7 linked regions of the Homo sapiens genome follow. The protein of the gene in region 5 purifies or fractionates together with the protein of the main gene of each other region. This does not show direct contact. Each region holds a gene or a part of one and is shown on either strand. Other genes may lie near its edges. The genes, in order: CNOT9, CNOT7, UPF1, CNOT1, RC3H2, IGF2BP1 and DDX21.

Evidence for each region.
Region 1: the proteins of RC3H2 (region 5) and CNOT9 purify together in Homo sapiens (affinity purification with mass spectrometry, with the first as the bait; 2 studies listed by BioGRID). This does not show direct contact.
Region 2: the proteins of RC3H2 (region 5) and CNOT7 purify together in Homo sapiens (affinity purification with mass spectrometry; 2 studies listed by BioGRID, with this or other methods). This does not show direct contact.
Region 3: the proteins of RC3H2 (region 5) and UPF1 purify together in Homo sapiens (affinity purification with mass spectrometry, with the first as the bait; 2 studies listed by BioGRID). This does not show direct contact.
Region 4: the proteins of RC3H2 (region 5) and CNOT1 purify together in Homo sapiens (affinity purification with mass spectrometry; 2 studies listed by BioGRID, with this or other methods). This does not show direct contact.
Region 6: the proteins of RC3H2 (region 5) and IGF2BP1 purify together in Homo sapiens (affinity purification with mass spectrometry, with the first as the bait; 2 studies listed by BioGRID). This does not show direct contact.
Region 7: the proteins of RC3H2 (region 5) and DDX21 purify together in Homo sapiens (affinity purification with mass spectrometry, with the first as the bait; 2 studies listed by BioGRID). This does not show direct contact.

What each region holds. Positions count from the first base shown.
Region 1 is NC_000002.12:218,571,175-218,575,922, reverse strand, and holds part of CNOT9 (CCR4-NOT transcription complex subunit 9), read right to left. Parts: intron 1-4,748. UniProt on the Homo sapiens protein: Component of the CCR4-NOT complex which is one of the major cellular mRNA deadenylases and is linked to various cellular processes including bulk mRNA degradation, miRNA-mediated repression, translational repression during translational initiation and general transcription regulation.
Region 2 is NC_000008.11:17,232,633-17,237,380, forward strand, and holds part of CNOT7 (CCR4-NOT transcription complex subunit 7), read right to left. Parts: intron 4,742-4,748; coding exon 4,580-4,741; intron 2,229-4,579; coding exon 2,084-2,228; intron 1-2,083. UniProt on the Homo sapiens protein: Has 3'-5' poly(A) exoribonuclease activity for synthetic poly(A) RNA substrate. Its function seems to be partially redundant with that of CNOT8.
Region 3 is NC_000019.10:18,862,231-18,866,364, reverse strand, and holds part of UPF1 (regulator of nonsense transcripts 1), read right to left. Parts: intron 2,928-4,134; coding exon 2,753-2,927; intron 2,196-2,752; coding exon 2,114-2,195; intron 1,077-2,113; coding exon 915-1,076; intron 805-914; coding exon 587-804; intron 322-586; coding exon 202-321; 3' UTR 199-201; intron 1-198. UniProt on the Homo sapiens protein: RNA-dependent helicase required for nonsense-mediated decay (NMD) of aberrant mRNAs containing premature stop codons and modulates the expression level of normal mRNAs.
Region 4 is NC_000016.10:58,538,126-58,542,873, forward strand, and holds part of CNOT1 (CCR4-NOT transcription complex subunit 1), read right to left. Parts: intron 4,444-4,748; coding exon 4,303-4,443; intron 4,211-4,302; coding exon 4,106-4,210; intron 3,496-4,105; coding exon 3,376-3,495; intron 1,835-3,375; coding exon 1,643-1,834; intron 790-1,642; coding exon 647-789; intron 142-646; coding exon 33-141; intron 1-32.
Region 5 is NC_000009.12:122,852,637-122,857,384, forward strand, and holds part of RC3H2 (roquin-2), read right to left. Parts: intron 3,243-4,748; coding exon 3,096-3,242; intron 2,762-3,095; coding exon 2,548-2,761; intron 1,980-2,547; coding exon 1,895-1,979; intron 1,631-1,894; coding exon 1,549-1,630; intron 1,451-1,548; coding exon 1,316-1,450; coding exon of another isoform or gene 1,238-1,315; exon of another isoform or gene 1,158-1,237; intron 1-1,157. UniProt on the Homo sapiens protein: Post-transcriptional repressor of mRNAs containing a conserved stem loop motif, called constitutive decay element (CDE), which is often located in the 3'-UTR, as in HMGXB3, ICOS, IER3, NFKBID, NFKBIZ, PPP1R10, TNF and in many more mRNAs.
Region 6 is NC_000017.11:49,045,885-49,049,384, reverse strand, and holds part of IGF2BP1 (insulin-like growth factor 2 mRNA-binding protein 1), read right to left. Parts: intron 3,496-3,500; coding exon 3,364-3,495; intron 3,126-3,363; coding exon 3,012-3,125; intron 34-3,011; coding exon 1-33. UniProt on the Homo sapiens protein: RNA-binding factor that recruits target transcripts to cytoplasmic protein-RNA complexes (mRNPs). This transcript 'caging' into mRNPs allows mRNA transport and transient storage.
Region 7 is NC_000010.11:68,962,670-68,966,169, reverse strand, and holds part of DDX21 (nucleolar RNA helicase 2), read right to left. Parts: intron 2,880-3,500; coding exon 2,701-2,879; intron 794-2,700; coding exon 676-793; intron 1-675.

The sequences.
Region 1 (4,748 bases), on a different chromosome or scaffold from region 5:
ACTCTTTGAATTTTTAATTTACTAATACATTTCTAAGGCTGTGGCTGATATGGAACTCAATCTAGTAGCACACATTGCTCACTGACAGGCAAGCAAATTAATCTATGACTTCTCTACTGGAAATTACCTTATTTGAAGCATTAATAATAATTGCAGGATACCAACCAAGAGAGCAGAGGTTGACATTTTTTGAGGCCCAGACCCTTTAAGAATCAAATGAAGTCCGGCACGGTGGCTCACGCCTGTAATCCCAGCACTTTGGGAGGCCGAGGTGGGAGGATCACAAGGTCAGGAGTGTGAGACCATCCTGGCTAACATGGTGAAATCCCATCTCTACTAAAACTACAAAAAAATTAGCCAGGTGTGGTGGCAGGCACCTGTAGTCCCAGCTACTTGGGAGGCTGAGGCAGAATGGCGTGAACCCGGGAAGCGGAGCTTGCAGTGAGCGGAGATTGCACCACTGTACTCCAGCCTGAGCCACTGTACTCCAGCCTGAGCTACAGAGCAAGACTCATCTCAAAAAAAAAAAAAAAAAGAAAAAAGAAAAGAAAAAAGAAAATTGTGGATCTTTTACTCAGAAAAATACACAACTGCAAAAACACGAAAACCTACACATAATTTTAAGGAGTTCACAGAGTTCCTGCAATGTATCCATGTACCCAGGATTAAGAATCTGTTTATCAAATTGAAGAACAGGAAAGACCTCAATTTGCAAGGAACTACATGTGTATATAATTGGAACACACACTGGCGTGGGAGCCTGAAGTGACTTCAAAATCCAGTTTTGCTCTTTCTAGAATTGTGTGACCTAGGATAAGTCATTTAACTTTCCAAACCTCAATTTTCTCATTGTTAAAGTGAAGGAACTATATTAAATAATTGTCAGTCTCAGGCAACTCTAAAATCTTAGAAATTATTTAGTTCTTAGTTGTGAGAGTCTAATCTAAGAGGCTCTTTTTTTAAAAAAAAAACTTTGACGTATAATTTGCATACAATAAAAGTGAACTCATTTTAAGTGTACGCTTCAATAGATTTTTGAGAAATTTATACACCTAAGTAACTGCTACCATAATGAAGATATAGATCCATTCACCCCAAAAAGTTCTTTAATGCCCTTTTCAGTAAACCCCATACTCAGCCTGAGGCAATCATGGGTGTTTTCTGCTACTATAGATTAGGTCTGCCTTTTCCAGAAATTATTAATATGCAGTAATATTTATTGAGCATACCATGTTTCAGGCACTGTGGATTACATCATTTTATTCTCAAAATTCTAAGAGGAAACAGGTTAATAGAGGTTTAATGTGCTCAAGGTCACACAGCCAGTGTACAGCAGAATGAGACTGAAACTCTACTTCTCTCTAGAATCGATGAGTTCTATCTGGTCTCAAGGATAGAAAGCACAAATACTCCTCCAAGTTGAAGAAATTACTCTTAAGAACCCAAAAAAACTTTCTTAAATTTAATATTCCCTTAGCACAGAACTCATTAACAGCTGGATTTGGATACACAGTGAGCTCAATTACATACCTGGACACATAGAATCATCATGAGAAATCTGATTTAGATTATGAGTTATCCTTAACACTTCCAAGAATAGAAAAAAGCTCTATAGTACATTACCGTAGATTATTAATTGTAACCTGCTAAAGTCAACAGTCCTGGCCAGGCACAGAGACAGGTTCACACCTGTAATCCCAGCACTTTGGGAGGCTGAGGCTGGTGGATCACTTGAGGTCAGGAGTTTCAACACAGTGAAACCCTGCCCCTACTAAAAATACAAAAATTAGCCTGGTGTGGTGTCGTTTGCCTGTAATCCCAGCTACTCAAGAGGCTGAGGTGGGAGAATCGACTGAACCCAGAAGGTCGAGGTTGCGGTGAGCCAAGATCACACCACTGCACTCCAGCCTGGGTAACAAAGCGAGATCCTGTCTCAAAAACATAAAATAAAATAAAAAAATAAAGTCAACAGTCCTGTTCTTTTAATAAGTGTGTTAAAAAACTTTCATATTATCAAAATTTAGGTGGTAACTCTCCCTCCTTTTCTGTTTAATGATTTGTATATGGAAAATGTATTTCAAATGACACCTTTTTTCCCCAAGAAAGCTTAACATACAGATAAGGTATTTACCAAAGTAAGTTACCAATGGTTAACTCCAAGTGTCACACAGGGTACTGACAGTTTAAGTTGGTCTTCTATTTCTGAAAGATTTTAACACATAATGTGAAAAGTATAAAGATGTTTATAAATTATTTTAAATAAAACATGACATTTATCTATAAATGGTAAAGAAAATGATTTCCTTCTCTGAGTAAACTAAAAAATTGATGCTGATGGTTTCTTAAACAGAAAATAGCCAAATTATCAATGTAACTTTATGTTTAAGGGCCAAAATAGCTGTTTATTTTCCTGCCAATACATAAAGAATGGAATCAGACTGAAATAGAGATTATTTTCCCAAGTCTGGAGATCAACACGTGGATTTGGGTGTCAGCATGGTATTCCAAGAAAATGAACTTTCTAATAGTGCTGGAAGTACTAAATTAGCTTACCTTCATAATTTTATAAGAGCCAGAATGTATCTTTTTTTTTTTTTTTTTTTTAAGATGGAGTTTCGCTCTTGTTGCCCAGGCTCGAGTGCAATGGCACAATCTCAGCTCACTATAACCTGCGCCTCCCAGGTTCAAGCGATTGTCCTGCCTCAGCCTCCCAAGTAGCTGGGATTACAAGCGCATGCCATGACGCCAGGCTAATTTTTCTATTTTTAGCAAAGACGGGGTTTCACTACGTTGGCCAGGCTGGTCTCGAACTCCTGACCTTATGATCCACCTGCCTCAGCCTCCCAAAGTGCTGGGATTACAGGCATGAGCCACCATGCCCGGCCCAGAATGTATTTTTTCAAAATAACTTTTAAAAAATGAAAGTGAATAAGGAAAGATAAGTTAGGCAATTTGCCTAAAGCTTCATCAGGAGACTCGGGAGGAGAAAGTGAATTAAATCCTTTAGAGTGCAGTGTTCTTTCTACTTGCCAAAAAGGAAGGCATCTGGCAGTCCATGACAGCTTCAATAAAAAGATGTAAAATAACTAATGATGCTGCTGGTTAGGCGGAAAGTGAGAGAAAGACAAGTGTTTAGGGATGCTAGAATTGTCAGTGGAAATCAGTGGGAAATTAAAAACAAAACAAAACAAAAACACATCCCCTAAAGGCTTACCTCCGGTTGTTTCACAAGCATAACATCCATTACAGAATACCTATGGCATGCAAAGATTTGTAGTTTTCTTTTTCCTTTGAGACAGGGTCTCACTATGTCGCCTAAGCTGAAGTGCGGTAGCATGATCATGGCTCACTGCAGCCTGGAAAATTTTTAAACATTTTTTGTAGAGATAGGTTCCTACTGTGTTGCCAAGGCTGGTCTTGAACTCCCGGCCTCAAGTGATCCTCCTGCCTTGGCCTCCCAAAGTGCTGGGATTATAGGTGTGTGAGCCTTTAATTTGGGAATTAAATTCCCAAAGCTGAAGTCTGGGAACAAGTCACATATCAGTGAGTGAATCTAGCCAACCACTGAGCATTTTGTTATTCTTTCTTTCATTTTTTTTTAAAGATGGAGTCTTGCTCTTGTCTCCCAGGCTGAAGTGCAATGGCACGATTTTGGCTCACTGCAACCTCCACATCCTGGGTTCAAGTGATTCTCCCGCCTCAGCCTCCTGAGTAGCTGGGATTACAGGCGCCTGCCACCATGCCCAGCTAATTTTTGTATTTTTAGTAGAGATGAGGTTTCACCACGTTGGCCAGGCTGGTCTGGAACTCTTGACCTCAGGTGATCTATCCGCCTTGGCCTCCCAAAGTGCTGGGATTACAGGCATGAGCCACAGTACCCGGCCGCATTTTGTTATTCTTACTTAATCTTTAGAATAATCCTGTGTGGTACTTCTGTCCTTATTTATTAGAGGAGAGAAAAAAGAAATTATGCTCAATGGTAGCGGTAATGAATATATGAAGATGTTAGGATGTATTCCATCAAGAATGACAACAGCAAGGTCGGGCGCAGTGGCTCATGCCTGTAATCCCAGCACTTTGGGGGCTGAGGCGGGCAGATCACCTGAGGTCAGGAGTTCGAGACCAGGCTGACCAACATGAAGAAACCCCATCTCTACTAAAAATACAAAAAAAAAAAAAAAAAATTAGCCAGGCGTCGTGGCTAATGCCTGTAATCCCAGCTACTTGGGAGGTTGAGGCAGGAGAATTGCTTGAACCCAGGAGGCGGAGATTGCTGTGAGCTGAGATCTCGCTATTGCACACCAGCCTGGGCAACAAGAGCAAAACTCTATCTCAAAAAAAAAAAAAAGAATCACAAAAGCCTACTACACTAAACATTTCTAGCATACGACTACTCAAGAGTCAAAATTTAAGATACTTCCCATACTATCTTAATTTTTCCTTCTAGTGAATAATATCCTGCATTTACATGTGACTACATTCTCTCTCTCTCTTAATAGACAAAGTCTTGCTATGTTGCTCAAGCTGGAGTCCAGTGGCCATTCACAGGTGCCTTCATAGCACACAGTAGCCTGGAACTCCTGGGGTGAAGTGTCCTCCCTCCTTAGCCTCCCAAGTAGCTGGGACTATGGGCACACACCACCCGGCTTACATTCTCATTTGGCAGTACTTTGTTATCTCCCTAGCTGAAATGATGATTTACCTACTATTTTAAAAAAGAGATAAATAAAGTCACAGATACACACTTT
Region 2 (4,748 bases), on a different chromosome or scaffold from region 5:
ACTTTAGTATGTAAAGGTGAATCTTATAAAGATTGGGGGGAAGAAACAGAGAATGTGAATTACTAATGTATTTGTTGAATGCGGAAAAAGTATCATTTAATAGAAAACAAGATCCTAATTGGGAAAATGTATTTTCATCATGTTTTAGGGCATATGACAGGTAAATACTCTCCTAGATATGGGAAGGAAGCAGACCACATATAGGGTAATATTTATCAAGTACACTCATAGTCTATCAATCCAGTAATAATTATAAAACTGAAAAGCTAGTATAACACCATTTTTTTCATATTTTCTTAAACTTCCCACCATCCATTTGTAGTTTTCACTTAATTTTTACAAAACAAAGCCATTATGAATAATCATTAAGAGTATGCTAAATGCTTCACTATGGTTTTCTTAGTTAAGACGAGTATATGCACACAACTCCTTAGAGTGGTCTGCTATAATCCACCTATGTTAATACTCCTAAGATTAAAAAAGAAAGATGAGAGTGGAAAGAGTGGAAAGAAAGAAAGAGAAAGACAGTAACAGAAGGAAAGAAAGTGGGAGGACAGGCAAGGAGAGTAAAGGGAGGGGAGAATAAGTAGAGCGTGAAGGAAAGAAACACCAACAACAAAACAAAAATTCTTCTCTAACTTGTTAAGGCCTCCACCGGCAAAATGGCCCTTCTGTGCATCACAGCTTGAAACAAGGCTTTGCACAGCAGTTGCTTCTGCGCTAAAAATAGCACGAGGATTAGGTATCGTTAGCAGCTGCTTAGGAGAACAGAACTAGAACTGAATAGAACAGCATGGCTGACTATAGGTCAAAAAGCACCTTTGTCGTTAACCTGAATTTTAACACAGCAGCTTACTCAGGACACATTCAGAATATCTGTACTTAGAAACTTCCCAGTAACAACCACATGATGAGCAATAATTTGGTTCCCTGTTCCTGAAAACTATCATTATACAGACATGTCAATTAAAAAAAAAGTCAGATGAAAACATGTAGGCCTCAGCATGCAGTGCTTTCACAGGGTGGGCTGAATTTCTCAAGCAAGGGATACCCTACTGCAAGTTCACTTCCTGGAAGTCCCCTCAAATTACACAGAAGTCTACTGCTACAAACATAAAATAATCTTTCTTGAAAATTTCTCTAGTCATATGCTGACCATATCATGTATTAAAGGTAAACACTGGCCAAAAGAAAGCTTCTCATCTTCAGTTATCTGTTAAGACCAGCGTGACCAACACGGTAAAACCCCGACTCTACTAAAAATACGAAATTTAGCTGGGTGTGGTGATGGACACCTGTTAATTCCAGCTACACAGGAGGCTGAGGCAGGAGAATCACTTGAACCCGGGAGGCGGAGGTTGCAGTGAGCCGAGACCACGCCACTGCACTCCAGCCTGGGCGACAAGAGCAAGGCTCCGTCTCAAAAACAAAAAAAGAATTAATGTTTAGAATTTAAAAATACATGTTATGCAGCGTCAAAATGTTACTACTATCTAGGCAGGACCTACACATTTCCCATAGTACTTAACTGTAACAAGCTGACATCTTTTGGCCACAGAAAAATCTTTTAGCTATATAGTTTAATCCTAGGAGCATTATCCTATCACTAGAACTGACAAAATAATTTCTAGCCAAGATAAGCCAAAAGGAAAGAAAAACTTTTGCCACACTACTAAATACATCTGCATATCGCTGGCCACCTTAGATTCCACCTTGTAAGAACAGATTCTATGCGTCTTGGGAGAAAGTAACAACTCACAATGGCGTGCATATGAGAGCCTCAATGTCCTCAGATTTGTGTTTTGGTTTGTGATTTTCAATCTGGCAAGCAGTGACAAGAACCGGACCTAAGCCTGAAATGTGTTGAAAATTCTGCCTTCTGCCAAGACATACTGAAGCTCTGAAAAAAGGATTCCCTACAAATTATGTATGCAAGAAAAAAAATCACATGACCAGATAATATAATTGCATTCACTGTAATACTTTAAAATATGGTTTAAAACAACATCCCAGCCTAGGCTCGCATGACAGTCACTTGGTCTGAACAGTGTGCTGCTGTAGATAATGCCATCCGAAGCCTTACTTTGAGATTTTTGCAGCTCTTCATGAGGTACTTCACATCATAAATGACAGGAAAAAACAATCGAAGGATCTCAAAGAAGTCAAGTTCTTCTTCAGGCAAGTTAGAGTTGGTTAGGATTTTGATTAAGTAGCCAAAGTCGTAACCGCTATAAAAGGGTTAAAAGAATAGAGAAGAGGGACATATAAATACTATAAAGATTAAAAAAAAAAGTTTTTCTGATTCAAATTTAAGCAAGTCACACTAGAGCCCTCCCAAAAACATTAAAGAGAAGTGCACACAAGAACAGAGAAAACAAACATATTGAGAACTATGAGAAAATGTCGTCATCTTACAGTATTAAGAACTTTATCACTTTATTATTCAGAGATATCAACACAGACCTACACTACCAAACCAGCCTATGGTCAATAAAATACTATTTTGTTGATATCTGAATAGAGAACACCAAGAAGAGTATCAAGCTGCCCACAGATGTCTCAAAATATTTTTTAAAGTAACTATGGAAATGGAGAAATAAAGATGAATGGAAACTTGGCCAGAAGAGTTAGCAAAGGTAGCAAGAGAACTGGCATTCGGTAGACAAAAGTAATGCAAGTCATCCCACTTTTACATAAGGTGGTCATATACTTTATCCAAAGAATAAGACTGTAACAAGGTATTTTCACTTCTCTTAAATGACTGTGTTAAGTAGTCTCTCCCTTTTCTTCCTTCACAATTCTCTTCCTTTCAGTGTGGCTCCCTAAGAGTCATTATTAATGGAAATGCTGCACATGGAAGAAGTGAAGGGTAGTAAAAAAATAACTACTCTCTTGATCATAAAATGCAAACTCCTACACTCTCAAATCCAGAACTCTTCTCCCTTTGTCCGGCCTTTCGCACAGCTTTCTGTCTCCCTACACTCCCAGGCCACTTAGACACGTCCGTCCCTTGTCTACCTTTCCTTCCAAGGACCTCTAACAGGAAGCCTATATGACATTTGCTCACTAACATTAAAAGATTATATTAGCGCTTAGGATTTATAAACTTCTTAAACTATTCTTCATTACTTGAAATTAGAATATGAGGAAAACAACTAATGATATTTAATGGAATAAAATCTTCTATCTTGATAAATATTCAAATATATCAGTCTAACTTAGATTCTAAACTCCAAGAAGACATGAATGAACCCTGTTTGTTTTTGTTCATCTTAATACCCAGTGCCTAGTGCACTGTATTTTGTCAGAGTATTTTTTAAATGAAAGGGTATGTCATATACAGTAAAAGGGAAGGGCAATACTTTCCAGTTCTTTTGCACCTTCATATCTAGGGAAGAAAAATGACTAAAAAAAAGGTATTTGTATCAAGAGTCTTAAGTTATGTTTCCTAAGGTACAAGTTCAAGTGCAGAAGAGACAAAAAAGATGATAGGTAAGAATGAGTGTGTTCAGTACCTACAACTCAACCATTTCTGGTTAGTACACATCAAAGTTGCCCACATGAACAGTCCTTCACTATAAACATCCCACAGATCAGAGACAGAAACTAAACATGCAGGAGACTCAGATTTAAGATACATGTGTGAAGTGGACCAAGTATGAGAGTATTAACATCTATGTAACACAATGCTTTTTCAAAACCTAACAAAAGCCAATATCATTCTGAAGGTTACTTTTAGTCCCTGGAACGTCAGTTTAGTTTACTTAGATGGGAAAACTCTTTTTCATACCTGGAAGTCTATTTCACAAAATCGGAATAGTTTCCTTACCAGAAACACTCTTAAATAATCTAGTTTCATAACAATAAAGAATTTAGAACCACCACTTATTGAGAATTTACTGTTTATAAAGTATTTTGGTGACCATTAAAACAAGTCTTCAAGCTATTTCTTCTAAGGGATGCCTTATCACTTTAAAAAAAAATTAAAATCCATCTCCACACCCATCCCTAGCATTTTCTTTGCTGTTTTGAGATAGTACTTATCACTATCTAACAAATCACAACGTGAACTCCATTTTTAAAAACTGTCTGCCCACCCCCATGAGAATATAAACTCCATGAGGAAAATAATTTTCATCTGTTTTATTCACACCTTAGTTCCTAGAATCTCATCTCAGTGCCTGCCATATGGTAAATACTCAATAACGTTGTGTAAATGTAAGTGAATGGTTTCCCCCGTAGAACATTAAAAACTAAGGTGTAGAAATAGTAAAAGAAAACCCTGGGTAACACCAATTCCAAATGGCGCCGCTGGATTTAAACCAGGGTCTTTCACTTTTTAGAGAACCTGTACTGTTTCCACTATGCAACATGCTTCTCACAGGCAAAAATGGATCCCATATTTTAAATTAACCTTTAAGCAGACCAACATTAGCCTCCTAAGAGTTAGGAGACAACTCTATATGGCAGTCAACTCTTTCCAGAATTAAACCTGAAATTGCTAACATAGTGACCCAAGTAAGTGTGGAGCAAGTATGAGATGGAAAAACAAATGCCATTTTCAATGTAGTCGTTTTACCTATGAAATGACAACCATTTGACCCCTTCACAGAGGACCACTCCAGAAGTCATAAGAAGTTCTGCAAAGTACTGGGTTTCAATTCCTTCCTCCTCATGTTTTTTAAACTGGATACCAGATGTTGTTAGTAGCTCTATAGAGTCCTGGGCATACATGTCCTCCCTGGCAG
Region 3 (4,134 bases), on a different chromosome or scaffold from region 5:
GGGTAGGGTGGGGTGAGGAGCCACCCTGACTAGCAGTGAAGGGCACAGGCCAAGCTGGCCCTGAGGGCCTATGACCCCCACCAGGCACAGCACACATTTCCAGATACCACCCCTCCAGTGCAGCTCCCTGGGGAGAGCCCCCTCCCATCCTTCTCCTTGAGGCTGGGGTGGGGCCAGGCCTGCTCCAGGGGGGCTTGCCTTTTAATACTGGGACAGCCCCGTCACCCCGCCATGCTGGTAAGCCCGCTCTCCCTGGTACGTGGAGTCCTGTGAGAGCGCCACGTCGATTTGTGATTTAAACTCGTCACCAAGGTAACTGTCCTGAAAGACAAGGTCAGGAGGTAAGCAAGCCACAGGCCAAGGGTGCTCACATCCACCCAGCCCTCAGCAGCCCCAGAGAAAAGAATGGAAAACCCGTCCCCAAACTAAGACCCAGGAGACCCACTCTGATGACCCCAGCCCAGGGACAGGTAATTCAGACAGTGGACATGGGCCAGGCCAGCTCTCTGGGGCTCTTCAGAGGGAATGTTTCAGGTGCATAGCCCCACCCTCACTCAGGTAAGTCCCGTCCCAGGGGCGGGCTCACCTGGGACAGCTCCGGCTGGGAGAGGCCGGGCTGGCTCATCTGGGAAGGCTGGCTCATGGAGATGTAGCCCTGCGTCAGGGCGCCCTGAGAGAAGGGCTGTGACGCCACATCCTGGCTGGCTTGGCTGTTGGGGAGGTTAGTCTGGCTGGGTCCAGGAAGCCCAAAGCGGTTCTTCTGGCGTCCCCCACGACCAGTCTTGCCTTTCGGGGTGCCTCGCCCTGAAAGACAGCAGTCCAGGGTGATCCGAAGGAGGCCAGGGCCTCGCAGACAAGCACACCCTCAAGAGCTCTCAGGAGGGCCACACCCAGCCGCAGCCACAGATGCTCACCTGCAGCAGGCCCGTTGGCTTGTCCAAAATAGCCAGGCGGTGGCATGGGTGGCATGACCAGGTTGAAGGGGATGGGAATGTTCATGGCAGCCACGTGGCTAGGGCCGGCACTGATCATGCCAATCTGGTCATGGGTCTGGAAGTACATGCTGGAAGGCCGGCCTGCAAATCACAGTGGAACACGGCAGGTGTCACCTGCCTCGGTCAAACCCCAGCGATACCCCACCCACCCCACCAGCCAGTCAGCCGGAGCTGCACATCTGTCCTGGCTCTGCCCAGGCTGAAGATGCGGATTCGCAGGACTCCATGTTAACTACAGCAGCCTGCCTGGGGCTGGGTGCTTGGGCAGGCACCTTCCCCGAGGAGAGTCTGCTGGGAATCATTGGCCTACACAGATCTTAAAAACTGAAAATTGGGGCCGGGCGTGTTGGCTCAAGCCTATAATCCCAGCACTCTGGGAAGCCGAGGTGGACCACCTGAGATCAGGAGTTTGAGACCAGCCAGGCCAACATGGCGAAACCTCGTTTCTACTAAAAACACAAAAACTAGCCGGGCATGGTGGTGGGTGCTTGTAATCCCAGCTACTCGGGAGGCCAAGGCAGGAGAATCGCTTGAACCCAGAGGGGGAGGTTGCAGTGAGCCAAGATCACACCACTGTACTCCAGCTTGGGCAACAGAGCGAGACTCGGTCTCCAAAAAAAAAAAAAAAAAAAAAAACACCTGCAAATTGGCCAGGTGCAGTGACTCACGCCTGTAATCCCAGCACTTTGGGAGGCTGAGCAGAAGGACTGCTTGAGGCAGGAGTTTGAGACCAGCCTGGACAACATAGGGAGACCCTGTCTCTAAACAAAAAAAAGAAAATAAATGAAAATCACCCTGCATTTACCAAAGGAAAAAAAAAATCCTTTTTATGAAAATGTTCTATTTGTACTACATGCAGTCCCTGCCCTACCAAAAGGCAAGAAAAAGCTAACTAGCTTGATCACCAGGAAACACAAATGAATAAACTCTGGTTAAAGACAAACACCCCAGGAGTGTTCCGGGGCTAGAGATGCCCTAGGGGCGGGGAGGCCAAGGGAGCCAGGCACCGCCCTTGAGGGGAAGGAAAGATGGGGGCACCTAAAGCTGCAGCCATGGGAACGGCCAGCATCCCGGTGTGAGGACAAGGGGTCGGCCAGGTCCCCTGCTGAGCGACTCACCCTGGCTGCTCCGATCATAGACGGAGCCTGGGATGATGGCCTCCCGGGCATCATACATGGCTGTGGTCATGAAGCGGGCTCCCTGCGAAGGTTTAGATAGGTGAGGAATTTGTCATCTCAACAGAAGGAACAACTTCCCACGGGCCCGGTGGCCTGGGAGGTGGCAGGTATGCAGCTGTGAGGTGTTGACACTGTGCCAGGGGCTCTCCCTGGAGACAGGAGGGAGCTGCTGTCTCATGGCCTCTGGGTCTCGCCTGCCCTCCTCGGCAGACCTGGGCTCTGATGCTGACCCTTGGGCCTCAGCTCAGGAAGCTTCACACCCCCTCACTACCAGATCACCCCGGGCTTGCAAAGCTTCCAACTGCCCGTGTCCAAGGTCCCAGGCTGCTGCATGCAGCACAGCAGCCCTGAGCCCAATTCCCAGAGGCCACCCAGGACTTAGCGGCCCCAAGCCAAAAATGCCACACACGGCTCGGGAGACAAGAAGTGGGCTGGCCCACCCTCCCCTAGGAGAGCCCACCCTCCCCTAGGAGAGCCCTCCCTCAGCTCACGGGCACACGGGCCAAGCTGGCACGTTCCCAGCAGTGTTTTGGGCCCGGGTTTCTCCGTGCTGCCCTGCTGTCCTGTGCAGGCGCTCACCGGGTTGATAGTGTTGACCAGCTTCCGTGGCTTGCTGAACTGCATGAGGCTCTCACGCAGGTTGTTGAGCGGCCCCTCCACCAGCACCTTCTGCTCCTTATAGTAGTTCAGCAGGTGGTTCCAGAGCGGCTGCTTTGATAGTGCCTTCGGGTTGCCCACAATGATGACGCCATACCTGCAACAAGGGCGCAGTGCTGAGGACGCAGGTGGAGAGCTGCCCGTCTCACAGGACGGTCCAAGAGGCAAGGCTGCATTCACTCAGAACCCAAATCCAAGGCAACAGAGGCGTGGACCGGGCAGCAGGCAGGCTGCCAGCCACAGGGACAGGCCCCAAAGCCCAATGCCAAGCCACTGACCCTGCACACGGGTTGATTTTGTGGCCGACTCTAAGCAGCCCCATGGCAGACACCTGGCTGGGTGGATACGTTTGGAGAGAAGACCTGCTGTCAAGAGAGTCGGCCTTCCAGGCACCGGGGCACACGCGGCCCCACAGGGCCCCCAGCAGGCCGGGGCACTGACCCGATGCCCAGCTCCTCTAGCCCACCTCACGAAGCTGTGGGGGGACCCACCCAATACTGCCCACCAAACAAGAGGGCGCCTTAGAAAGAGGGAGTAACCAATGACAAAGCCATGGTGACCTAGAGGAGAACCACCGCGCATATGAGCCGGAAGGAGCACCAGGCTCTCTCCCTGTGCTGGGTGGAGCCACAGGCCAGGTCCCCCCAACTTCCAGCTGGTGAATGGGTCCTTGCTGTCTAGTGTTTTTTTTTTTCCTTTGGAGACAGAGTTTTGCTCTTGTTGCCCAGTGGCTGGAGTGTAATGGCGCAATCTCGGCTCACCACAACCTCCTCCTCCCAGGTACAAGCGATTCTCCTGTTTCAGCCTCCCAAGTAGCTCAGATTACAGGCATGTGCCACCACGCCCGGCTCATTTTTTTGTATTTAGTAGAGAGGAGGTTTCACCATGTTAGGCTGGTCGAGAACACCTGACCTCAGGTGATCCACCTGCCTCGGCCTCCCAAAGTGCTGGGATTACATGTGTGAGACACCATGCCTGGCCTGATGTCTAGTTTTATGTGGGATGACAGAATGGACACCTTGTTCTCGGGGTCCCTTCTGCTATCATCAGTTCACAAAAGTTGTATTTTAGAACCAAAAATAGTGGACAGGACCAAAACTTACAGCCTCTCAGATTAAACAACTTGACAGACACACACAAGATTTATTTTGAATCAGACCAGAAGGGCCTGGAAAAATACGTCCTGCTGGGCTGAGGCACAGGGGCCACAGCAAACCCCCAGGACACGGAAACAAAGATCTCTCCAGTGAGACATCGTTTCTCAACTGCTGCTCAGAGTCCTCTGACCTCTGGCCCTGGCAACC
Region 4 (4,748 bases), on a different chromosome or scaffold from region 5:
CTTTTGTCCGTGCAAGTAAATTCCTTCCATACCTGCGCTAGGTGAAGATCATACTGCTGCATATTAACCAAATGATTGCGAATTAGCAGCTCCACAGCCTCCACATTATATTTATATTCATCTCGACATTCAATTAGGCACCTAGAAAAAGTTCAATATCTTTACTCATATAGGCTTAACCATACTGTAAAAGGGCCCATTTTACTCAATGGAAATTTGCTCCAAACTAAGAATGCCTTGAGATTCAACTCCAAATCAGTGTCCAAATTTAAAAACAGCCAGTAATGAAATAGAACAGATAGCCCAAGCTTTCCTTTCAAATCCTAGGATACAGAGTATTCCATTTAAGACATTAAAATACTTATACACGAATACCACTTCTGAGAAATCACTGTAACCTTTTAAAACAATGACCTACAATTTATTCCCCAAAACAAGGTACTGGTTTTCTATATCCAACATGGGGAGAAGGTAGAGACCAGATGGAAAACAACTACTTAACAATTCTCACCTCTCAGAAGTAGGAAGTCTAAGTGTCCGACCTACCTACTAGAAAAAAGGGAAACCCCTGGACATAAACAGTACTATCTATGTCAAAAGGCAGTCGCAGTCCAATACTCACTACTTTTCGAAGATGGCTACTGACCTTGTGATCTGTTTGTTGCACCATGGAGACCCATATGCCCGGCCATCCTGCAGAGCTTTTAGGACCAAGAGGTGGCATTCCCTGTAGCGCAGCAGAAGGTCAGCATCAGCACCACTTGTGGCATCTAGTAAGCCCTCTACAGCCTATGGGAGAAAGAAAGCGTTCAAAACCATGAAAAATACAGTGCTTGGCCCAACTATCACAGCCAGAAACCAAATCTCAATGCCAAGTACCAAATACCTTCCAAAGCCTCCCTGTCCTTTCCACTCTCCAAACATCCCTTTCAGTTGCCTATCACACACACTCTAAATTCTATCTGATTTAAGTTCATTCTGTGCTCTTCATTGTCATAAAAGGCTCTGCTGTAGTTAAAATCCAGGGCTCCCTACCTACCCTGATCCAAATTATTGGATCAACTTGTCCCTCAAAATCTAAAGGGCAGCTGGGCTCAGTGGCTCATGTCTATAATCCTAGCGCTTTGGGAGGCTCAGGAGGGAGGGCCACTTGAGCCCAGGAGATTGAGAACGACCTGGACAACAAAGCAAGACCTGTCTCTACAAAAAAATTAAAAATTAGCTTGGCTTGGCAGTGAGCACCTGTAATACCAGCTACTCGAGAAGGTGATGTGGGAGGTTCACTTAAGCCCATGATCACATCACTGCACTCAAGCCTGACAGAGAGAGACCCTGTCTCTTACACACACACACACACACACACACACAGACACACACACCCCTCTAAAGGGCTACCTTTTAAAGTTTCTTCAAATCACATTTCCAGAATATCTTTAAGAAAAAAAATGAAGATTTCCAAGTTTACCATTCAAAACTGCCATGACTACATTCTACGTTGGAAAAAAAAAAAATCACCTACTTACAGAACTTGATTTATATTATGAAATCTTAAGCATAACTGCATAAATATGTAGATGGTGGTGCAGGTCAATAAATGTTTACACACCTAGCATTTTCTAAAAGTAATAGCTTAAGAACCAACCTTTTGGAGCAATCCAAGAGCAGCTATGGCATCCCGAGAGTTTCGAGATAAAACTACAACCTCCAAGAGACTTCGAAGAGCCTGAGCTTGAGGGTTCATGGCCAAAGTTGGTGGGATGGCATGTAGATGTTGCTCCAGTTCTGTAATACACTTATCATAAATCTGAGCTACATCATCTGTTGCCCAAGCTTGCTGTTTTACAGAAGGAAACAACCAACAAGAGACAAAAGAATGTTAAGGTTTTTTATTGACACATGTATCAAATAGAGGTCTACTAGTATGTTTACTCCCTTTTTCTTATTTTTACATTCAAACATGGAGGGCCTCTTCTTTTCCTTCTTCCTGAGCTATTCAGAATTAATACCATCAAGTGGCACAGTACAAGGCAGGCATAAGGGAAGAGGTGTTTCATTTGAGAGAGGAAAACCTGGCAGACAGCAGCATAATCAAGTGATAAAAGAGAGCATTAGTAACAATGAGACAGACTGAGGGCAGCACCACTTGTACCATCTACTAAGCCCTCTATATCCTAAGAAAGTAAGTGTTTCAAACCATGAAAAATACAGTACTCAGTCCAACTGTCAAAGCCTGATAGGATAGAGTAAGAATACAGCATTACTTCTGAGCTATTCCTATTTTTAAAAACACATTACCTGAACCTAGTCATGAGAATACACTGGACAAACAAATCAAGTCATTTAGAAAATAATTAGCCTATAATATTCAGAAGTGTTATGGTCATGAAAGATGAGGAAAAACTGAGTTACCTACACCAGCTAGAACTGAGGGAGACTTTAAAAATATGACAACTGAAGAAATGTGTGATTCTAAAACAGGTCTTTTACTATACATTATTGGGATACATGGTGAAACTCGAGTGAGGTCTATGAATTAGATGGAGTAAGGTTATTAGTATTCATTTCTGACCTTAATGGTTGTACCATGGTCACACAGGAAAAGGGTTTTTTAAGAAATACAAACCAAAGGAAAAAGGTTTTGTAAGAAATACAAACCAAAGGATTCAGGAGCGATGGGGGTATCAGGTCAGCAACTTACTATCGACCGGTTCGGGGGAAAATATTTTTCCCTATATTTCCAAGTTTTCTGTAAACACCTTTGAAAATTTTAGAAAATTCTTTTATTTAAAAAATGGGAAGGCTGGGCACAATGGCTCAGGCCTGTAATCCCAGCACTTTGGGAGGCCAAGGTAGGCGATCACTTGAGGTCAGCAGTTTGAGTCTAGTCTAGGCAACATGGCAAAACCCCATCTTTACAAAAAATACAAAAATTAGCTGAGCATGGTGGCACACGCCTGTAGTCCTAGCTCCTCAGGAGGCTGAGGTGGGAGGATCGCTTGAGTCTGGGAGGTGGAGGTTGCAATGAGCTGAGATCGCGCCACTGCACTCCAGCCTGGGTGACAGAGAAAGACCCTGTCTCAAAAAAATAAATAATAAAATTTAAAAATAAAAAACCGAAAGTTATTATGTTACCATGAGAATTCCCCTAATTAGGCCGAACATTAAAGTTAAATCACCCACACCCATGTCAATTTTTCTTTAATCCCCTGTATGTCATACTTAATTGGACACAAAGAATACCTACAACTCAAAAACTATAGGTGTTTTTTCCCCTGTAAATTATTCTCCCAGGAAGCAAGTCAAAAACATATATTAAATGTCAAAAACATTTAAATTAATTGGCAAAACACTCAATTTAATCTAAAACACATTTACCTTCATGGGCTGGGCTAAAAATCCCGTGGGCTGACTTAAGTCATTTGTAGGTAAGAAGCCAGGAACATTGCGTGCAAACTCTTCGTAAACAGCCAACTGCTTTGGGTCCACACCACCAACCTTGAAAGAAGAAAACCTATTTTGACAGAATTCACTCAATAATCAAAATAAACTGTTTTGAAAGTGGAAAGTCTGCATGTGGGTAAGCTCAGGGACACAAGAGTCATTACAACATATAACAGCATGATTAAGCATGCACGCACACACAAATGCAGTTCAGAAGAGGGCTTCTCATTTCCCTGAATCCTGCTAAGAGTCACCTCATTTATAAATTAACTGAGAGTTTCTCTTGGAAAATGCCTCACATGGGACGATGCCAGTGCAATTCTCCCTTGAAGCTGGTAAATATTATCAGATTTCTCACTGTCTCACTGGGAACAATAAGCAACCATTAATGTGAGAAGCCCAAGTTGGGAAACATGAAAACTAGCAGGCACATGAACTCCTTAGAGTAATAACACTTCAACAACTCTGGAGGAGCAAGGGAATTTAGAGCTATTTCCATACCTCCTCCACAGGCAGCCATTCAGTGAAATGCTATCAAGTTAAGATGTTTTCTCATAAACAATATTTAACCCTGCTGTCCTAATTCCAGTAAGGAGTTCAATCAACAACAACATTAAAAATAAAACAAAGATGGGACGGGGAAAGACAGAGCCCCAATTCTCACTTTCAGCCTGATTTGCTCTGGCATCCGTTCAGCTTGATATGTTAAAACAACAGGATCACAGTATCTGCGTCCTTCTTGCCTAGCATGTTTTCTCAGCTCAAATTCCTGCAAACAAAAAAAGTCACTGAGGTTCTTGTTATAAGGCACTTCCCTAAATTAAAAAAGAAAATCTTAAAAGGCAAATTCTAAACACTTACAGTTGCTAATCTCTTGTCCATCTCAGGGCCTGCTTTTTCTACTGCAGTCTTCTGAATAAAACAGCAAGCCAACTCACAATTGTCCTGAGCTAATTGAGCAGCTGCCTGATCCATCATTTCTCTTTGTTGTGGGGAAGCAGTCTATTAATGGAGGTGGGTGGGGGGGTGGGGGGAATAGAAGGAAAAAGACTTGAAAGTTGATGTGGACAGACAGGATAGTAGAAAATGCAGTGCATTTGGCAAATGCATTTTAAGTTCTGACTCTACTTATGAACAAGCTGTGATCTTGAAACAGTCTTAACAGCTTCCTCACTTTTAAGACAAAAATATCCTAGACACCTTATCAGTTTATTGTGAACATGCCTTAAAATCAGTAAAGCAGGCCAGACGCGGTGGCTCACACCTCTAATCCCAGCACTTTGGGAGGCCAAGGCAGGTAGATCACT
Region 5 (4,748 bases):
GTCAGCTCCCAACCCGGCCAGCCGCCCTGTCCGGGAGGTGAGGGGCGCCTCTGCCCTGCCGCCCCTACTGGGAAGTGAGGAGCCCCTCTGCCCGGCCAGCCGCCCCGTCCGGGAGGGAGGTGGGGGGGTCAGCCCCCCGCCTGGCCAGCCGCCCCATCCGGGAGGTGAGGGGCGCCTCTGCCCGGCCGCCCCTACTGGGAAGTGAGGAGCCCCTCTGCCCAGCCACCACCCCGTCTGGGAGGTGTGCCCAACAGCTCATTGAGAACGGGCCATGATGACAATGGCGGTTTTGTGGAATAGAAAGGGGGGAAAGGTGGGGAAAAGATTGAGAAATCGGATGGTAGCCGTGTCTGTGTAGAAAGAAGTAGACATGGGAGACTTTTCATTTTGTTCTGTACTAAGAAAAATTCTTCTGCCTTGGGATCCTGTTGATCTGTGACCTTACCTCCAACCCTGTGCTCTCTGAAACATGTGCTGTGTCCACTCAGAGTTAAATGGCTTAAGGGCGGTGCAAGATGTGCTTTGTTAAACAGATGCTTGAAGGCAGCATGCTCATTAAGAGTCATCACCACTCCCTAATCTCAAGTACCCAGGGACACAAACGCTGCGGAAGGCCGCAGGGTCCTCTGCCTAGGAAAACCAGAGACCTTTGTTCACTTGTTTATCTGCTGACCTTCCCTCCACTATTGTCCTATGACCCTGCCAAATCCCCCTCTGTGAGAAACACCCAAGAATGATCAATAAAAAAAAAAAAAAAAAAAGAAAAATACTGATTTTATACCTGTGGAACCTGGGGTTTCCCTTTTAAATTAAAGTAAAAAATCCCAATGATCAGCCAGGCACGGGGGCTCACACCTGTAATCCTAGCACTTTGGGAAGGTGAGGCGAGCAGATCACTTGAGGTCAGGAGTTCAAGACCAGCTTAGCCAACATGGTGAAACCCTGTCTCTACTAAAAACACAAAAATTAGCTGGGCATGGTGGTGGGTGCCTGTAATCCCAGCTACTCGGGAAGCTGAGGCAGGAGAATCGCTTGAACCTGAGAGCCAGAGGCTGCAGTGAGCCAAGATCGTGCCATTGCACTCCAGGCGATAGAGCAAGATTCCATCTCAAAAAAACAAAAATCCCGATGATCTAGTTAAAGAATTATTTAAGAAATCTGGGATTACAATTTTATTTCTGTTATAAGTTTTAAAAGCAATCAATCATCCATCAGAGATAGGCACACCAAAATGCACTCAGTAATGGTATAACCAAGATGCAGCAGCAGAAAACAAATACATTAAGCATGAAGCCGAAAGGTTCAGTTTCTTTACCTCTCCATTTCTTAGTTCAATTTCCTTGCTTAAAAGGTTTAAGGTAAGGTGACGGCCTTCATCCAGGGAATTCCACTTCTGTTGCATGGCCAAAGCATTGGCCTCTCTCTGAAGAAGTAATGAGTTGCTCTTGGCCTATATGAGGAGGGAAAAAAAGAAAAGTTAGCTTCCAACTATAGCTTTCAACTGTCATTCTATTTCTCAAAAATTTATAGCTGAGTTACAGAGCCTACCTGCTGAAGTTCAAGGCTCAAAAGGTCCCCAGTACTGGAATGCTTTCTATGACCAGATAAATCAGTAACAATGAATCTGTCCCTTTAAAGAGAAATATGTTTATTGTAATAAAAGTGAAGTGAATGAAGCAACAAAAGCAGTAATAACCATATGTTTTATGTGACAGATCAACCCTGAAAACTTCACTCATCGTTCCAAATTTAAATGCAAATATTTTTCAGAAATTTGTTATATAGCTCAGACAACAAGCAAAGCACATTTCATGAACTGGGGGTAGAATGTGTACCCTTAAGATACATACAAGTCTGAGAATGGAGAATCATATAGAATTAAGAAGAACGTTACCTTTCAACATAGTGTGCTGATGATGTGGCCTCGTTGCCATATGAACTCCACCTTGAATCAACAGCATTGACATAAGGGACATAATCTACAGACATGTAGAATGAAACAATGGTCAAAAAAGTGAAAAATCAGTGTACTGAGGTGAATGTATACTTCTCAAAATAGATCTGTATTTTATCCCACTAGCCATATGATGCTGGTTAAACACCTAATTCTGAGTTTCCCATGGTTGTTAAATGGAGGGAAATGTTTTCCATTTCACAAGTTGGGGATTAAAAAGCACAGTGCTTAGGACAGGCACAGTGGCTCACATATGTAATCCCAGCACTTTGCGAGGCTGAGGCGGGTGGATCACATGAGGCCAGGAGTTCCAGACCAGCCTGGCCAACATGGCGAAACTAAAATACAAAATACTCTCTACTAAAAATACAAAAATTAGCCAGGCATGGTGGTGCATGTCTATAATCCCAGCTACTTGGGAGGCTGAGGCAGGAGAATCGCTTGAACCCAGGATGGAGGTTGCAGTGAGCCAAGATCACACCACTGCATTCCAGTCTGGGCAACAGAGTGAGACTCTGTCTCAATTAAAAAAAAAAAAAAAAAAGGCATAGTGCTTAGAACATATCAGGCTAGGTATTATCTAAATGGATTACCTGATACACTGATGGGCTTAGTCGCACTTCCTTGGGAAGCAGTGGCCTGGACAGGATCTGTGGTATGGTAACCTGTACGGGAAGATCTGGAAATCGCACCCCATTTTGAGATGATGGGTCCATCACTAAAGGGAATTATTGGATCTTCTTCTTTTGTCCTTCTCTGGGTTTCAAATAAATGTACTCTTCTCTTAACATCACCACTGTCCAGGTCCTATGTAAACCAAAGAAAATCAATAAAAGGACTGTTGGCAATTACTTCAGCTAGTAAATATATGCTATCAAAAGACATGTAATTAGGTTTTTTGGTTAATTTAAAACTAGCTCTAGACTCAACGATAATCCAACAAACTACCAGTAAACCACCAATGTTCAAATAACTTAAATATTAAATATAATTTATTTCAGACTTACCTAAATATAACCCTGCTGCTACTGAGTTATAAGGCAACAATATGAATGAATGAATAGAAAACATTCATTCTACAACATGAGTGAACATGCATCATCTCTCACCTCCAACCCCTGCAACCCCAGCAAAATCATACCATTAACACAGCATTTGAATTAGCAATGACATCTTTGGGCTCTGAATCAATGGCATTTATACAGGAGCCTATGGTGCCACAAGACCAGGGAGAATAATGGGAAAGATGATCTTCTTCAAATTTTGTACCACTCACACTCTCTGAGAACTGGTTAAAAAAAAATAAATAAAGCCAATTAGTAAGAAGCTTAAATTTACAAGCTTGTAACTAATATAAAGTAACTATTATAGAATTCAGAGGACTTCATAGCAAACAATTATACTTTTTCAATAACTAATATAAAAAACTGTAATAAGCAAGAAATGGTATTTTTACAATAGAAAATGGCATGCTTTCCCTTTTCACTTTGTCCTTTAAGTGCTCATATGGAACATTTGACTAATACTATCAAAACCAATTAACAAATATTTATAGTATGGTACTAACATGGTATGGGGTGCACCAAGAAAAAAAAAAGTAAGAGAAAACAAATACATAGATACACACAGAGATCACAGTCCATATCCTAAAGGAGTTTATAATTTTCTTTTTTCTTTTGAGACAGGGTCTCACTCCCACCGCCCAGGCTAACATGCAGTGGGGTGATCACAGCTCACTAGCAGCCTCGACTTCCCAGGCTCAGGTGATTTTCCCAGCTCTGCTTCCCAAGTAGCTGGGACTATAGGCACACGCCACTATGCCCAGACAATCTTTTTGTATTTTTAGTAGAGATGAAGTTTTGCCATATTGCCTAGGCTGGTATCAAACTCCTGGGCTCAAGCAATCCACCCACTTCGATCTTCCAAAGTGCTGGGATTATAGGCATGAGCCACTACACCAAGCTGAGTTTATAATTTTCTTGAGAAAAAGAACATGTGCAAATAAGGGAATATAACTGATAAATTATGCAGTATCAAAGAACAAAAGGAATTCAAAGGAGGCTCTGGAGATAAAGGGGAAATGAATAAATTTTAAAGGGACTGTGAATAAGGAATACTTATAGGACCAGAATACTAAAGTTATAAGAATCATTAAATCTAGTTTACTAATTATTCAGATAAAAAAACTCAAGGGCAAAAAAGTTAAAAAACTTTTCTCAAGTCGAACTCAGCAGATCGGAGTCTCAGGGAAATACTCATTTCCTGAAGCATAATTGTATATCAAAAAAGAAAATACAAGTGGCATCTAGCAAGCAAGTGGCATCTAGCAAGCAAGTGGCAGCTCTGTCACTCTGTTGTCAAGATATTTACCTGCTTTGAAGAAGTCTAAGTTTGACAAGACCTATTTGGATCTAGTTTAAAAATTCAATGCTTTATTGAAATATTTATGGGTTAAAAAATATAATGCCTAGGATTACTTCAAAACAATCCAGGGGGAAGAGGGGGTATAAATAAGACAGTACTGACTGAGTTGATAACCGTGGAACCTGGGTGTTGGGTACATGGAGTTTATCATATTATTCTCTCTATACTTGTATATGTTTGAAATTTTTTATAATGAAAAGATTTTAAAAATTTTAATATCAGAACTTCTGGGGATGGGGAATAAACCAGAAGAAACTTAAAAAAGAAATTAATGGTTTTCTCCAAATATAACAGTACTGAAAACACCAGATTAAATTAAAATCATCCTGGTACACAAACTTGTTTGGTAATGCCAAGAACAATAATTAGC
Region 6 (3,500 bases), on a different chromosome or scaffold from region 5:
GGCCAGGATGTCTCGGATCTTCCGTTGAGCCATCTGCAGCAAGAACAGGCAAGAGAGTGGGTGTGAGACCTCCAAGGAGACAGCCTTCCACGGAAGAGAGGTCATCAGGTCCAGACACAGGCAATAAACAGAACAGGTCACACAGGACTCAGAAGAAAGATAAAGAGGAAGAATGAGGGTTGGGGTGACCTTACATTTCTTTGCCTCCAGTGGAGCCTGAGTATCCCCTGGAAAATACAGCAAACGTGGTGGGTGTTAAGTGGGAGATGGGGTTGGGGGACTTGAAGGAAGGAGAAACAGTAGTATCAATCCATTCATCAGAATTTAAAACTTGACAAAGTTGATAAACATTACCAAACGCAAAACAGAATGCCTAGAGTTTCTAGGCAGAAATATATTACATATTGCAGAGCAGTGGTCCCCAACTGTTCTGGCACCAGGAACTGGTTTCATGGAAAACAATTTTTCTTCCACGGATGGAGGTGGGGGTGGGGAAGTGGTTTCAGGATGAAACCTCAAATCAGCATGCAGTAGATTCTCATAAGGAGTGTGCAACCTAGATCCTTCACATGCACTGCGCATCCCTCGAGCACTTCACAACAGGGTTAGCCCTCCCATGAGAATCTAATGCCGCCCTGATCTGACAGGAAGCGGGGCTCAGGAGGTAATGCCCACTCGTCTGCCGCTCACCTCCTGCTGTGTGGCCCGGTACCAGTCCGTGGCCCGGGGTTTGGGGACTCCTGTTGTAGAGGGTCGTAACTTAGAAGACATCATCACAAATCCACGCTTCATTTTAATACCCCAGGAAAAGGAATAATATGTCTAGATATGGCCAGGTGCACGGTGGCTCATGCCTGTAATCCTAGCGCTTTGGGGAGCTGAGGCGGGTGAATCACCTGAGGTCAGGAGTTCGAGAGCAGACTGGCCAACACGGTGAAACCCCATCTTTATTAAAAATACAAAAATTAGCCGAGCGTGGTGACGTGCGCCTGTAATCCCAGCTACTTGAGTGGCTGAGGCAGGAGAATCACTAGAACAGGGGAGGCGGAAGTTGCAGTGAACTAAGATTGTGCCACTGCACTCCACCCTGGACAACACAGCGAGACTCCATCTCAAAAAAAAAAAAAAGTAAAAATAAAAAATAAAGTCCAGATATGGGTTAGTCAAAAAGCATAAATACATAAGCTTCACTGTAAAAATGGACAAAATACCCAATCTTTTATTATTTCCTTCTTAAAAGGTTCTTCCCTAAGAATAAAGTTTTATAAAGGAAATAAACTGCAAAATGGGATTCACTTCATAGAATGAAGACCAGAATGTCTCCTTTCCATAAATGAGTGCTTCCTTTCCTGGTTAAAGAAGCAGCTGAGGCTGGGCATTGTGGCTCATGCCTGTAATCCCAGCACTTTGGGAGGCTGAAGCAGTGACATCACTTGAGCCTAGGAGTTTGAAACCAGCCTGGGCCACATGGTGAAACCTCATCACTACAAAAAAATACAAAAATTAGCTGAGCGTGGTGGTACCTGCCTGTAGTCCCAGCTACTTGGGGGGCCTGAGGTGGGAGGATCACTTGAGCCTGGGAGGTAGAGGCTGCAGTGAGCTGTGGTCACACCACTGCCCTCCAGCCTGGATGGCAGAGCGAGACCCTGTCACAAAAAAAAAAAAAAAAAGAGGAAGTTGATCTAGGTTGGGAAAATAATGTGTAAGTCAATAAGAGGTCCAACTCCATCAACCCTGGCTTGATGTTTTACATAGCTTTTCATTTAATTCTCATTCTGATCAGCTAAAATTGCTTCAGTGTTTAATATTAATATATCCTGGCTTTATGCATCTTTGGAGGTATCCTTTACTCTCTTTAAAAAAAAAACGCTGAATTAAAGATTCACATTTACCCTCTTAAGCTTCATTTATAAAATGAAATTGTTGTGGGAATTAAATGAGTTAATATACATAAGCCACATAAAACAGTGCTGGGTATACAAAGGCATCGATAAATCTTAGATATTATTATTATTATGGCTCTTATTAATACTTTTTTGTTATTTTATATATATATATAGTTGAGATGTAACTAAAGCCTCTTGTTAATACTTCTCAAAGGGTTATCAGAGAAAGTTACTTATCCAAGGTCACATAGCAGAAAGGCTATGTATGTGAAGTTTGAGGTCAAAGCTCCCTGGATCCAAAACCTTCATACTTGATGCTATACTATATGGGCACTGGAAGCCAAAAAACCAAGAGCCAGTTTGCCCCAATTGCTCTAGCAGCCCCAGCAGACCACAAGCCTGCTAAGATCTGGATATCTTCTATGAATTGTAGGAACTGTGATCAACAGTCTCCAAAGTTCCTTTCCAGTTCTAACAATGATGGATTTAAGACTTTAGGAAAACACCATTAGCTGCCAACCACCTGTTTGCTTGCCTTGCTGAGGTTCAGCAAAATTTGAACCTGATATTGGCCTTCCCTTCCATGCTCTGGAGCCTGTCCGAGTGCTGAACGGCAATGATGAGTTCTGGGAAAGGAATGGGAGGGTGGAAGAGCAGAAACCAGGGAGAGAACAGCCATTCTGCGAAAGGCAGAGGGACTACATTTCAAAAATGCCATCAATCCAGGGTGTTAGTACTGTTATCATTATTCCATGAACAAAACTAATCTTCTTTCTTAACCAGTGCAGAAAGGGGTTAGGGAGGGACTAACGTAGAACATATATATATATATTTACATATAATATATATTCATATATATGTTATTTATATATATAATGTTATACACAATATATGTACATTAAACTTGTCAAATCACTTTTCCTAGAGAGTAATAAGAGGTAATATGTCATCTACACATCCCACTTCTGCACCTGAAAGAGGGCAATAACCTAGCCTAGAGGCAGGCAGATGTGGCTGAGGCCCCAGGACTTGTCAACGTCATGAAGGTCAACCTCTATAGAGTCTCTGCTTCTCTGCTCCCTGGGCTCCTGCAGCCCTCCCTCAATGGGGGAGCACCATATGTACCTGACTGGCATAGAAATGTCCGATGATTTTCACGATGACCTGGTCGTTCTCATCAGGGGTCTGGTCTCTTGGTACTACCACCTCAGCTGCCGTCAAATTCTGCAACTCGTTCACCTGGGGGTGGCCAGAGAGGAGCTCAGGGTGCCATCAAGAAAGCATGGGTGGGGTTGGAGGGAGGAGCCAGGGTGACTAGTGGGGAGAACCTGGAAGAGTCAGGACCTGAGCTTGGGGAGTAGAATCAAGTAAATGAGCAAATCAGGAGTCCTGAGGTTGAGCAGTACAGGAGACCAGAGAGAGCTGCTGAGATTGGAGACCAAGGCCCAGGGCTTTCAACCTGGCCCTCACAGCTCACCGTTTTTCCACCTTTGCCAATGACCCGGCCAGCTGCTGATGCTGGCACACGTATGTGGGTCTCCAGCTTCACTTCCTCCTTGGGACCAAAGAAGTTCTCCTCCTTGAGTTTGCCATAGATTCTTCCCTGAGCCTGAG
Region 7 (3,500 bases), on a different chromosome or scaffold from region 5:
TGCCTGCCACCACGCCCGGCTAATTTTTTGTATTTTTAGTAGAGACGGGGTTTTACCGTGTTAGCCAGGATGGTCTCGATCTCCTGCCCTTGTGATCTGCCCGCCTCAGCCTCCCAAAGTGCTGGGATTACAGGCGTGAGCCACTGCGCCTGGCCAAAACTATGATTTTTTTAAATTCCTTAAATCCCTTCCTAATTTATACATCTGCTCTAATAATAAAGCTCCAAGGCCTTGAACTGGGAAGTAATGGAATATAAGAGTAGAGACTAACATTTGGCCCTTGAGCCCCAAGGAAAGAAAGCCTGCCTACATCAAGAAAGAAGCAACCATGCAGAAAGAGGGACAGACCCAAGGTCCTGACAGACAAGAGGAACCTTGAATTCTGACTTCCTATTTCCTAGAGCCCAAATGGACTGTCTTTTTGGGTTCAATAATAAATTACTTTTGTAGCCCCTAGATAAATATAAATAGATAAAAGTCCTAAGAACGATATACAGGATTTGCCTATCATCAAGCAGGACCATGTTCTTGACCATGTTTAAACAATGGCAAAAGAAAATCCCCATAAACGACTATCCTATATAGAGAAGCCAGATGTCAAGGTGAAAAGAAATCCAATCAGAGCAGTCAACAATGGGTGGCATTATACCTCCCTCACTTTTTGAATGTACTCACATTGACCTCCATAGGGAGTTCCACCATAAAAACAAGCCACTGACAGCTTTTTTGTGATGTCACTGAAGTCTTTGCTTACTTGATTTGCCAACTCTCTTGTAGGTGCAAGAACCAGTACCTGATAAAGAAAAATAATTGAATTCAAATTACTGTGTAGTATTTGTTTCTTAATCTAGTCCTTAAAGAACAGCATTCCAGGAAAAGAACGACTTGAACAAGGTCTAACGCTGATGATGACGATAACATTATCTAATATTTTTGTCTAATAGATCTGAGACTCTACTAAATTCTTTATATATATTATTCTGATTCAATTCTTGCAACCTTTTGAGCTAGGTATTAGAGGATAAATAACTTGACTAAACCCCAAAGGCTAAGAAGGAGCAGAGCCTTCAAGCAATTGGGATCCAAAACCTATAGTCTTAACCTCTACAGTAGAGAAAATTTGAAGCAGAACAAAATCAGAGAAGTAAGGTAGAGCCAACAATGTAAGGGGCTTTGAATCCTAGAGCAATATGAATTTGATCTATATATATATAAAACATGAAACTGCTGGCCAGGCGCAATGGCTCATGCCTATAATCCTAGCACTTTGGGAGGCCAAGGTGGGTGGTCAGGAGTTCAAGACCAGCCTGGCCAACATGGTGAAAGTCTATCTCTACTAAAAATACAAATGAGCCAGGCGTGGTGGCTCACACTTGTAATCCCAACTACTTGGGATGTTGAGGCGGGAGGATCACTTAAACCTGCGAGGCAGAGGTTAAGATTGCACCACCGCACTCCAACCTGGGCGACAAAGCGAGACTTTGTCTCAAAAAAAAAAAAAAAAAAAAGTCCAGGTGCAGTGGCTCAAGCCTATAATTCCAGCACTTTGGGAGGCTGAGGTGGGTGGATCACTTGACGTCAGGAGTTCCAGACCAGCCTGGCCAACATGGTGAAACCCCATCTCTACTAAAAATACAAAATTAGCCAGGCATGGTGGTACACGCCTGTAATCCCAGCTACTTGGGAGGCTAAGGCAGGAGAATTGCTTGAACTGCTACAGGTCCTCAAAAATAGGGTAATGGTATGAAACTAATATGATTCAAGAACACCTAATACATTCATCTAAAATGTGCTAGGGATATAGCAGTAAACAAATTAACAAAGGGGGAGCATGGACACTGGAAGGCCAGTGAGCAAGTGAGGTTAGGCCAGAAAGACAACTGCAAGAACCCACAGCCAAAGTGACTACATGGGCATTCGCAGTCATTTCAATGAGGTTAATGTTTGTTAAATGTCAAGTTCTCTAGAAATGAACCCAATGGACTCACCCTAATATGGGGGCTTGGCGTTTTCACCTCTGACTTGCCCTTCTTTCCATTCATGCTTTTCTTTTTTTTTTTTTTTTTTTCTTGAGACGGAGTCTTGCTCTATCGCCCAGGCTGGAGTGCAGTGGTGCATCTCGGCTCACTGCAAGCTCCGCCTCCTGGATTCACGCCATTCTCCTGCCTCAGCCTCCCAAGTAGTTGGGACTACACGCGCCCGCCACCACGCCCGGCTAATTTTTTGTATTTTTATTAGAGATGGGCTTTCATGTTGTTAGCCAGGATGGTCTCGATCTCCTGACCTCGTGATCCGCCCACCTCGGGCTCCCAAAGTGCTGGGATTACAGGTGTGAGCCACCGCCCATTCATGCTTTTCTACCAAAAATGCTTTCTCCATCTAGGCAAAAATGGTCAGACACTTGACGAAAGCTATGAGCCCCAGGGACATCTAATGGTTTGAAGGAAATATGATAGCATTAATTATATAGATGATCAAAACTGTGGGAAAGATTAAAATATTGAAATATACAGAGAATGATCTGTATATATTAATTATTAAATATAAAAGAATTGTCCTGGATTACTTTCACATAAAGATCCACAGTAAATAGAATGGGTGACTATAAGAACTCAATAAAAAATAGTAGGGTATGTACACAATGCCCAAGTGGTGGTTTTTCCTATGCTGACTGAGAGCCCTTGTATTTAAGACAGTTACCTGAGGGGCACGGCCTCTCTTCCTGTCTTGCAGTTCCCCATGAAGTTTCTCAATCAAAGGGATGGCAAAGGAGAATGTCTTCCCAGTTCCTGTCCGTGCCTGTGCAATTAAGTCCTTCCCGCTGTAAACATGATGGAATGTCTTTGCTTGTATAGGAAATAGGAAGGTCACTCCTCGGCCTATGAACAAATTAACTGTGTTATCTCACACTGCAATTCTTAAAACATTAGCCATACTGACATACTGAAGTATACTACTCATGCTTCTGGTCCTGCAGAATTAAGGAATTCTACCTTCTGGTCAACATCTACAAAGTTAGGCTCAAATACGTATATTTTTTAAGAGACAAGGTCTTGCTTTGTCGCCCATGCTGGAGTACAGTGGTGTGATCATAACTCACTTGCAGCCTTGAACTCCTGGGCTCAAGTGATCCTCCTGCCTCAGCCTGATGGACAGCTGGGATTACAGGTGCAAGCCATCATACCTGGCTCAGAAATATTCTGATAGTAAAGAATCTGCTTGACTGAAAAATATCAACAAACTTTAAAGCATCCAATTATAGTAAATATTTGAAGTCTCATCCATAAGCCTGAAAATCTGGTGCTTTGCAATCCAACTGTGCTGCTCCTGATTTAGGAAGCACCTACTTGAGTAACTGTGACTCCAGCTACTTCAGAAGCAGATTATTAAATGAATTCTGGGTTTATGCCTATAAATTAGGCTCATTAATCTAGAGATGCCTCAGAAGTGAAAGAGATAAAACATTAATATGGCATCACCTAATTGCTTAATTTCACCAG